Linked DNA regions of Homo sapiens. The protein of the gene in region 2 purifies or fractionates together with the protein of the main gene of each other region. This does not show direct contact. Each region holds a gene or a part of one and is shown on either strand. Other genes may lie near its edges. The genes, in order: MARK2, PARD6G and WWC1.

What was found.
Region 1: the proteins of PARD6G (region 2) and MARK2 purify together in Homo sapiens (affinity purification with mass spectrometry; one large-scale study listed by BioGRID and IntAct). This does not show direct contact.
Region 3: the proteins of PARD6G (region 2) and WWC1 purify together in Homo sapiens (co-immunoprecipitation; one large-scale study listed by IntAct). This does not show direct contact.

Annotation. Positions count from the first base shown.
Region 1 is NC_000011.10:63,898,082-63,901,732, reverse strand, and holds part of MARK2 (serine/threonine-protein kinase MARK2), read right to left. Parts: intron 3,502-3,651; coding exon 3,453-3,501; intron 3,126-3,452; coding exon 3,060-3,125; intron 2,971-3,059; coding exon 2,900-2,970; intron 2,682-2,899; coding exon 2,625-2,681; intron 1,860-2,624; coding exon 1,623-1,859; intron 1,175-1,622; coding exon 1,055-1,174; intron 954-1,054; coding exon 854-953; intron 777-853; coding exon 664-776; intron 1-663. UniProt on the Homo sapiens protein: Serine/threonine-protein kinase. Involved in cell polarity and microtubule dynamics regulation. Phosphorylates CRTC2/TORC2, DCX, HDAC7, KIF13B, MAP2, MAP4 and RAB11FIP2. Phosphorylates the microtubule-associated protein MAPT/TAU.
Region 2 is NC_000018.10:80,205,899-80,209,549, forward strand, and holds part of PARD6G (partitioning defective 6 homolog gamma), read right to left. Parts: intron 1-3,651. UniProt on the Homo sapiens protein: Adapter protein involved in asymmetrical cell division and cell polarization processes. May play a role in the formation of epithelial tight junctions. The PARD6-PARD3 complex links GTP-bound Rho small GTPases to atypical protein kinase C proteins.
Region 3 is NC_000005.10:168,420,562-168,424,212, reverse strand, and holds part of WWC1 (protein KIBRA), read right to left. Parts: intron 2,206-3,651; coding exon 2,116-2,205; intron 681-2,115; coding exon 145-680; intron 1-144. UniProt on the Homo sapiens protein: Regulator of the Hippo signaling pathway, also known as the Salvador-Warts-Hippo (SWH) pathway.

The DNA.
Region 1 (3,651 bases), on a different chromosome or scaffold from region 2:
CGGACACATACACACACACACACACACACACACACACACAGATACACACACCCAAACATAAAGCACTAGACAGAAGCAACAGACTCAATAGCCGGGTATGGTGGCACATGCCTGTAATCCCAGCTACTTGGGAGGCTGAGGCAGGAGAATCGCTTGAACCCGGGAGGCGGAGGTTGCAGTGAGCCAAGATCCTGCCATTGCACTCCAGCCTGGGCAACAAGAGCGAAATTCCGTCTCAAAAAAAAAAAAAAAAAAAAAAGCAACAGACTCAAACTTCCGATCAGACACACACAGAGACACACACACACACCCAGAAATGTACACTTCCAGATACAAAAAGAGACACAAAGATATCTAGATCAATGTAGTAGTGCTAGCCGATGACCTAGACACATCTAATCAATGCAGACTAACCTAGATCAACTCACCCGTATTGAAACTCTGACCCAGTCCCACACCGACCCTACCAGCTTTCTATTAATTCACTCATGGAGATCAGTGAATGGGCCAGAGGACCTTAGACACCAAAGCTGAGGCTTAAAATTGGTGAGCAGAGAGCACACCTACTCAGAGATGAGCTTCTGCCCTCAACAGGTGTTAGAAGCATAGGTGCTACAGACAGTGAGGCTGGCCAGGTCAGAGAATGGGGCGGGGAGCACACACCTCGGAGCTCTTGTAGCCCAGGAGCAGATAGGTGGCCATCACCTCGTTGTATCTCTGGCCCACCAGCGAGTCCTGGATCTCTTCCCGTGTATAACCCATGGACACCATCAGCTCTGCACAGGGGGACATACAGTTAAGACTGGCCTCAACTCCTAGGCAAGCTTAACCTCACAGCCCGGCACAGCCTCACCTGTCCGCCGGGGGTCCTTGTAGTCAGGGAGTGGCTCCACGTAAGGCTTTAGTTCATCATCTTCGTGACCCACATTCATCCATCGATCTTTCATGATTTGCTGGGGAGCACAGAGAAGGAAAAGGGCAGGGGGAAGAAACTCAGCTGGAAAGTTTCTGTGGGGACCCCAGGCCCTTCCGCCAGTTGGGCTCCACTGCTCACCTCTAAAGTGCCTCTCTTGCTGGGATTAAGAATGAGAAATTTCTTAAGCAGGTTTTCACAGTCCGTGGACATGTAGAATGGAATACGGTATTTTCCCCTCAGTACCCGTTCCCGCAGCTCCTGCAGGAGGATCCAGGGTTAGAAAATTGAAATCACCCCAAGGCCAAAGGAAGAAACCTAATATCCAAGATCCTGAGAGCTTAAGCCTGGCAAAGCAGACATAAATGAAATATGGAAGAAGGCAGACAGCCTGGGGACAAGACACCTCACCAGAGAGGCAAGTGAAGTCAAATACCCTCGTACCCTCTAACTTGACCAGTCCGAGGCCTGCAATCCGGAGTGCCTTGGGGGATGAACACACACACAGTTTATCCCATCTTTCGAGAAAGGAACTGAGGTTATTCATTCCCAGGTGCAGAAGGCCTTTGACTGCTGCTACCTCAGCAAGCCCTTCTCTGAAGCTTTGGCTTGGGACAAATGTAGACAGGTGGCAAAGGCAGGAGGTCAGGGCTAAGACCAGAGGCCGAGAGGAAATGAGAAGCAATAAAAAGCTTGCACTTCACTCCACCTTGAGGTTCTGTCCATCAAAAGGCAGGGATCCGCTGACCAGTGTATAGAGGATAACTCCTAGGCTCCACACATCCACCTCGGGTCCATCATATTTTTTGCCCTGGAAGAGTTCTGGGGCAGCATAAGGGGGACTGCCACAGAAGGTGTCCAGCTTGTTCCCAAAGGTGAATTCATTGCTGAAGCCAAAGTCTGCAATCTTGATGTTCATATCAGCATCCAAGAGCAGGTTTTCTGCCTGGGAGGTAAGATGGAAAACATCAGGGAACCAAGTGGACCAGACTAAGGCCCTGGGCAGGAAGGAGCTGAGGGGAATGGGAGAACAAACGGAAAGTCATCTTCAGTCTCAGAACTTTCTCCACCAATTTCAGGGCAGGGCTTCAATCAGCGTGAATAGGCTGGGCAGGAGGAAGGCAATGCAGGCCACTCCTCACGTGGGCAGCCATGGGAGAGATGGGATCTGAAGGCCCAGAGACCCTGTGAGCTGTGCAAAGCTTCAGCATCAGGCCCAGGTTAATCAAATCATGTCTGTGAGGACTCAGCAGCCAAGAGACCCACAGGTGTCCTCAAACTTGAGTATCTTGGTGATGGAGATGGTATGTGTGTGCCTGCCTGCAAAGCAGCTGGGATACAGCTGTGGAACTTTCAGCACTCTTCCCTGGGTCAGCTACCAGGTTGCCTGAAAGACTGAGAAAGCCTGGAGTGTGCCTGCCTTGCTTGGCAGCACTAAAAGGTGATGTGCCAAGAGGTGAAATGGCAGAGGGCCCCTGCTCAAGGGCTAGAATGGAACCCGAGGTCCAGCCACAAGGCCTCTATCAGAGGCAGCCCTAGGGGCTTTCTGGTCATCTCAAAAAAAAAAAAAGAAAGAAAGAAAGAAAAAAAGAAAGGCTGGAGTTTCCTGGAACACTCAGGGCCTGATGGTTATTGATGGTTTTATCATGGAGAACCAAGAGGCAACAACCTGGCTCCCACTCAAAGGCACAAGGAGAAGTGCATGCCTTACCTTTAAGTCTCTATGGACAATAAACTTCTGGTGACAGTACTGCACAGCAGACACTATCTGAAAGGAAGGAAGAAGGGTTAACCCAGGGGTGCCTGAGGGTGGGCCACAGGGGCTGACAGAGCAGTGACCCTGTGACTTAGTGCTAACCTGCCACACGGATAAGCAGAGCCCAAAGTACCCTCCAAGGGCCACTTACAGACAGGCAGCTTATCCTTACATGTCAAACCCCAAAAGCAGAGGTCAGGCCTAGCTCCTATGGAGGGAGTCACACCTACCTGGCGGAATTTGGCTCGAGCCTCTTTTTCTTTCATCCTGCCATGAGCCACTAGGTAATCAAATACCTCTCCTGTAAGAGACCAGGCAGGGATCTCAGTCAGAGCTGGCTGGAGGTGGAAGAAGTGGGGGCACAACAGGAAGAGGCAGTTCCACACCTACCGCCACTAGCGTACTCCATGACAAGGTAGAGCGTTTTCTCAGTCTCAATCACTTCAAATAATTTAACTACAAGAGAAAAGGCCAAGCCTTAAGTCAAGAAGCAACAGGGGCCACATACTGCTCTCCAACATGTCCAGGAGCATCCTAGGAACGAAAGTCTCCCCTCCTTTCATGATCCCCCACTCCCAAGAACAAGTTCCTCTCATGCCAGCCAAACTGCTAAAGACAGCCCAGTGTGCCAGAAGGGGAGATGGATTTTGAGCTGAGCTTCCCCAGGGGTATCCTTGAAGACTGCAGACTCCAGAAGGCAGTGCACCTCGGGGAGAAGATGACATGCTGGAAAGCAGTGCCTTGCTGTTGGGGAAGAAGAAAGAAATAACAACTTGTGCTCACCTATGTTGGGATGATTCAAAACCTTCATTATTCTTACTTCGCGGAATAGCTGGAAGATAAAATACCAGGGGTCATGCCTGCCCAACTTGCTCCCATCAGGTCTCTCCAAACAGTCCCTGCCAGGATTTGTTTTTCCCAAAAAACCAAAACCGGGCAGGGAAAAGAAAATAGGGTGGTTGTCTAGCTCATGCACGGCCTT
Region 2 (3,651 bases):
CTAATGCAACTAGTAAGAGTGTTTTTGAATTTTATATAATTCTCACTTCAGTATCACCGCAAAGGGATACAGCTCACTTTCACCTCAGGAACGCCAGGCCTCCCTGAAACAGCATAGGCTAAATGTTAGTTCTACAATGTTTCAGTCTTAACTTTATTTAGCAACTAACCTAAAACACATCTCAGTTTCTCAGTACGTTCAATAATTTTCTCAAAATATGTCTTAGCATGTTAACTTGAAATGAAAAATAAATTCAGACTGTTTCCTGAGAGAAAACAAGGTTGATTTGTGTTTAATGATGAGGCTGACTTTGCCAACCCAGCTATATGGTAAACATGCTTCATATGTTGAATGAGCTCCAAAGTTTTGACAAAAAGAGATGTGAAATGTGACATGACAAAAGCATTGTATTTAAAAATCATATTGGTATTGGGTACTAAATATTTTTATTTCCCCATGATATCAGATTAAACAAGAGTCCTCTAAATGAAGGAATTAGCAGGTATAATTCATTGTCACATACTTCTTGGTAAAGTCCTTCCAGTATACTTACCAGAAACTGAAACAGTGAATGGCTCTAATGACCAGGCAATAAACCTTGCAAGTCAAGTAGTTTCCAATTACTTGCTTTTGACAAAATATAAAGTTGTCCTAACTGAACTGTCAGCTAATTATCAAAATAATTTTGAGAGACCACCCTATTATTTTTGTCACACAACCTGTTGAGAGTTCAAAGAACTGAGCTGTGCTTAGGGGCCTTCACTCTCATCTACCTGAGTGTGCAAATGAAGCTTCACAGTGTTGACACCCAACAATAAAAATTGCAAAACAATTAGTGCCAGCCTACCTCATTTATCAATAAATACTTAACAGTAAATGAAAGATTCTTCAAATGTTTATTTGGATGGCTAGTGATTATCAATAAATACTTAACAGTAAATGAAAGATTCTTCAGATGTTTATTTGGATGGCTAGTGATTATCAATAAATACTTAACGTAAATGAAAGATTCTTCAGATGTTTACTTGGATGGCTAGTGATTATCAATAAATACTTAACAGTAAATGAAAGATTCTTCAGATGTTTATTTGGATGGCTAGTGATTATCAATAAAGACTTAACAGTAAATGAAAGATTCTTCCGATGTTTATTTGGATGGCTAGTGATTATCAATAAATACTTAACAGTAAATGAAAGATTCTTCCGATGTTTATTTGGATGGCTAGTGATTATCAATAAATACTTAACAGTAAATGAAAGATTCTTCCGATGTTTACTTGGATGGCTAGTGATTATCAATAAATACTTAACAGTAAATGAAAGATTCTTCAGATGTTTATTTGGATGGCTAGTGATTATCAATAAATACTTAACAGTAAATGAAAGATTCTTCCGATGTTTATTTGGATGGCTAGTGATTATCAATAAATACTTAACAGTAAATGAAAGATTCTTCCGATGTTTATTTGGATGGCTAGTGATTATCAATAAATACTTAACAGTAAATGAAAGATTCTTCCGAAGTTTATTTGGATGGCTAGTGATTATCAATAAATACTTAATGTAAACGAAAGATTCTTCAGATGTTTACTTGGATGGCTAGTGATTATCAAATTGCACAACTATGTTCCAATCACCATTTGATAATACTTGTTAATAACTCAATCTAGAAATTTACTATAACAATCTATTTCATTTATAATTGTGGTAAAACACACATAAAATTTACCATATTAGCTCTTTTTAAGTGTACAGTTCAGGAGTGTACATTCACACTGTTATGCACCCACTCTCTAGATTGCTTTTCATCTTGCAAGCTAGAACCCTATACTAGTAAACAACTTAAAAATATTTTTAACAAATAGAGCCCCAGGACCACAAGAGAAAAATATTTGAACTTCAATTTATACATATTTTTTGTTGCAGAGAAGAGTAACAGGGGTAACGAAGCATAAGTTATTAGAATAAAATATTAGGACAAAAATCTCTTGAGGGAGTAATGGGAAGAAGAAATCAAAGAGAAAAAGAAACCATGTATAATTTCTGATTAGAAAAGAGCTCTTCAGAGTCAGAAAAGTGGCAAAAATAAGAGTCTGTTTATCCTATTTTAAAATGCATGATAGTGGTATCAAATCACTGCAGCATTTAGATTTCACTGTATCAAATCACTGCAGCATTTAGATTTCACTGTATCAAATCACTGCAGCATTTAGATTTCACTGTATCAAATCACTGCAGCATTTAGATTTCACTGGCTGTATTTAGAAGATCATGCACCAAAAACTTTATTTGTAATGGAATATTTACAGCATGCTGTAAATTACATCCTTTGCAAACTATTTATATTTACTAAAAAAAATTCAGGTACCAACTTAAAAATATATCATCCCCTTTTATAGTGGTAGTTTTTCAAAATTCTTTCAGGCTTCATGTGACATTTGAAGACCACAACATCAGAGTTCAGGGATCACTATGAAAATGCCTAAACCACCATTAAAGGTTAGCAGGAGACTTGGCACTCCCTAATATTTTCATTGTTTTTCATGTGGGTGTTTGTTCGTATAGCAGGACTTACAACAGGACGGCTGCTTCAACATCTGCTGGGCTTCATTCATTCACCTACTATCCCGCACATAAAATGCCTCAAAGGGAGCCATCCTATCCCGGGAGGTCATCTCCTCACTCCAAACCAGTGACCAATTTCAATGAAAGATCAATACTCAAGCCAGGCATGGTGGTATACACCTGTAGTCCCAGCTACTTGGAGGCTGAGGCAGGAGGATCACTTGAGCCCAGGAGTTCCAGGTCAGCCTGGGCAACATAGCAAGACCTTGTTTATGTTAAAAAAAAAAATCAAATTTCCTAAAAAAGATTGCATTGCTGTGCCTGGCCTAGGTTAGTAGCAAGTTAATAGATAACCCCATCAAAAAGTCCACATTGGCCAGCGATGGCTGATGTCTGTAATCTCAGCACTTTGGGAGGCCAAGGGAGAGTCCGAGACCAGTCTGGCCAACATAGTGAAACCCCATCTCTACTAAAAATACAGAAAAACTTAGGCAGGCGTGGTGGCACACGCTTGTAGTCCCAGCTACTTGGGAGGGTGCTCCAGGAGAACTGCTTGAACATAGGAGGCAGAGGGTGCAGTGAGCCAAGATTGCACCACTGCACTCCAGCTTGAGTAACAGAGTGAGACTCCATCTCGAAAAAAGAAAACAAACAAACAAACAAAAAAAAAAAACACACCTTTCCCTCACCAGTACCCTGACACTATGAGCTGTATCATTTCCCCTTAAAAGGACCCATGGTTCCGAGGCAAAATGGCTAATTCCAGGTATATGGCAAGAAATGTATGTAAGCCTATGAATCCCATGTTTATTTTTAAAGAATAAGATTATTTGTTATTGGGAAATACACAGGTGTGCAAATTCTTATTCTTCAATGCTTCTAGCTAAATGAACCCTCATTCATTATTTAGATAATGATTATTCTATTTTGTAGTTGACCCCAACTATTATTCCTACAACAGGATAGTAAAAAACGGGGTTGGGGGAGATTTCATCTTTTAAAATTATTAAAAATTATCTCAAATACAAAATACCAAGATCAATAAGCAAAAGCGTATCAGCATCTGGCTAGGTGTGGTGGCTCACA
Region 3 (3,651 bases), on a different chromosome or scaffold from region 2:
TGAATAAATATACTTGCCATACAAAGACCCAGCACACAGAAGCAGTCAGTAAATATCGACTAGAATGATCACTGGGGGGTTCTGAGCACAGAGTATCTCTTTCCCTCCTCCTGGTTCCCACCCTCTGGGTATGGTGCTCTCTACCTTGGCCCAGCTGCTTGCCCTCCGTTCCTGGTTCCTCCAGCCGGTATCTTTCCTGGGCGCTGTTACCAAGGCTCAGTTCACAAAGAGTGGCACTCAGCTCCGGGTCTTCAAACTCCAAGGAGTTGAGGAAGGCATCACCAGCCAGGAGGGGGTCAGCCATGAGAGGGGAACAGGGTGGGGAGGGGGAGGAGAGAGAGGAACGTGGGGATAGGGAGGTCATGGACTTTGGGGTGCCAGACAGGGAACGCAGAGCCTGCAGGCGGCCACCTCCCTCTGCCTTCTGGGTCTTGGCCACCTCATCCTCGTGGATGGTGGTGATGCAGCCTGAGGGCCGGAAGCCGGTGGCCCCCTCCAGGAGCAGGAACTCCACCTTGCTCTGCAGCTCTGAGTCCAGCTGCTCAAAGGGGTCATAGTAGAGGTCAGTGAAGCTGGCTGAAGTGGAGGAGTCCAGGCTGGATGCAACCAGGGAGCCCCGGCTGGACGTGAGGGATCCGGGGCTGCTGCCTGAGGACAGGGACTGCATGCTGCTTGAGAGACTGGGACACAGGGAGGGGAAGGACAGTGAGATGCACACAGTGAAGTGGGCCCCCTGAGACCTTCTGCTGAGCTCTGGAAAGCACCATGATCTCACTAGACTTGCTTGGCAATCTCTAGGGTAGACCCTTCACCCCCACTTCATGGAAAACTGATACCCCAAGAAGGCCACATAATCAAGACATGGCAGAGCTGGGCTTTGGACTCAAGTTATAGCTGCCTTAAAAGTCCACTTTTTCCTCTAAATCTGTGTTTCCCAAAGCTCCAATTGGCTACGTTGCATTTGTATGATATGTTTTCATAGTTGAATCCATTATGTAATAAAGATTTCTTAATATCTTTCTTGAAATCAACTCACTGTGTTTTTTTTTTTTTTTTTTTTTTTGGGGGGGGATGGAGTCTTGCTCTGTCGCCAGGCTGGAGTGCAGTGGGGCGATCTCGGCTCACTGCAACCTCCGCCTCCTGGGTTTAAGCAATTCTCCTGCCTCAGCCTCCCAAGTGGCTGGGACTACAGGCACCTGCCACCACGCCCGGTTAATTTTTTGTATTTTAGTAGAGAGGGGGTTTCACCGTGTTGCCCAGGCTAGTCTCGAACTCCTGAGCTCAGGCAATCCGCCTGCGTCGGCCTCCCAAAGTGGTAGGATTACAGGCGTAAGCCACCACGCCTGCCCCAACTCACTGTTTTAATACTTTAAAACATCTATATTAAAAGGAAACTTTACATCCTAAGTGTAATTTGAAAAGCAGTATCACTTACTACAAAGAGAAGACCACCATTAGAAAAAAATCTAATGGAACAAAATGTTATTGAATTCCACTGATGCACTGTTGTTCATGGAGGCCCAGGTCTGAGGCTACATTCTCTGTGTTGTGCAGGTAGGTGGCAGTGTGAGTTTCCTAAGGCTTTTTTTTTCTTTTTGGAGACAAGGTCTGGCTCTATCACCCAGGCTGGAGTGCAGTAGCACAATCTCGGCTCACGGTAAGCCTCCTCCCGGGCTCAAGTCATCCTCCCACCTCAGCCTCCTGAGTAGCTGGGACCACAGGCATGCACCACCACACCCAGCTAATTTTGTATTTTTAGTTTCGCCATGTTGCTCAGGCTGGCTTCAAACTCCTGAGCTGAAGCGATCCACCCACCTTGGCCTCCCAAAGTGCTGGGATTACAGGTGTGAGCCATGACACCCAGCCGAGTCTCTTAAGACTACCTATTACCTGCCTGGGGCCTTCTTTGTGCTATCAGTCTGGAGAGGTCAAGACCCCTATTCCTAGCTACACCAGGCCACGCCCGAGTCTGCTGACAATCCATTTGCTATGCTTCTAAACATCCACTCTCAAGCCACGGAGGACAAGTGAAGGGTAGAGCCTGGGCTGGGACACTGGGGACACCCATGTCTGGCCATGCCCAGGGGAGCAGTGGCCTCACCGCCCACCACTCACCTTTTCAGCTGGGAGTGCAGAGTTGCCACCTGCCGGGTGGCTTCCTCCAGTTCTCTCACAAGCTGGTTCCTCTTACTGTTTAACTTTAACCTGGAAGGAGAGAAAGCATGCGAGGGATGCACCAAAAGGAAGCACAGGCATGCACTCTTACCCATGTACACCCAGACCCACAGGCACAAGAACTTTCCGTAAAGCATTTGACCACGGCATCTGGGGAGCTAGAGCTTCCACATATATTATAATCCTATGATAACTGCAATATCACTCACCCACTATATATATATATCAGGCACTCTGCTGGGAACCTTAGGACACTGCCTTAATTCAGTCACACAATAATGCTGCATAGTAAGAATGATTTTTACCACTTTACATAAGAGGAAATCGAGGCCCTTAGAGTTGTATAATTTACCTAAAGCTGTGGAATTAGTGGCAGAATTAGGATTTCACCCAACCATACCCTCCTTCTCTTCCTTCCTCCATCTTTCAGCTCATATTTACTGAATGCCCGTTTTGTACTGGACCCTGCCTGTGGCACTGGGGATAAAGTAGTGAGTGAGCACAGTAGGACTTGTTTCTGTTCTTATAGGGCTTACATTCTACTGGGGAGAACCGATATTAAAGAAATACTCAAATATCTAATTAACACAGTGTGTGACAAGGTCCATGAAGAAAAAGTACAAATGGTAGAAAAGAACACAAAAGGAGAGGCCCAATTTGAACTGGCAGGTGAGCCTCTTCCAGTCAAGTGACTCTGTGGCTGAGACTGGTGGTGTGTACCCTGCCTCCACCATTTTCCCAGCCTTCCCTGTGGCCGGGTGGGCAGGGCGTATGACCAAGTTCTGGCCAATGGGATGTGAGCACTAGTAGTTAAGAAAAGTGTGTGTGTCTTCTTTACTGTCTGTTGCATGGACTCTTGTGGACTCAAAGGGGAGGCGTCACAGATGGAAAGAGCCTGAGTTCCTGAATGACCACATGGAAGGCTGCCTGTTAACTGGACATACCCAATTAGACATTATATGAACAAAAAATAAACCCGTTGTATGAAGCCACGGAGACTTTGGGGGCTGTTTCTTGCAGCAGTTAGATTCCTGACTAGTAGAGAAATTTAAGGATGGATAATGGACAGCAGTTGGCTAGGAAAAGTGCAGGAGGGAAGAACATTCCAAGCAGGGGCTTTAGCAAAGACCTTATCATCTTGAGGTCACCATGACTGTGGGGAGGACAATGGGCAGGAGGCTGAAGACTGAAGGCGGGGAGGGTGGCTGTGAGGTGTAACCGAGATGGTGGAGGCTTGAGCAATGCAGAGACAGAGACAGTGCCTGGGCTGCAGGAGCAGCTGAGGCTGAGGGAGTAAATGTGGAAGACTGTGCGGTTACTGCTACGGGCAGCCAAGTGGCCCTGCAGATGGCATCTGCTAAGAGGAAAAGGCTGAGGCAGAGGATCCCGGGGGAAGAGAAGAGCTCTATTATGGATATGTGGGTATGAATACTGAACAGGTGGGCTGCTCTAAAGGTCGGGGCGGGGGGGTCCCTA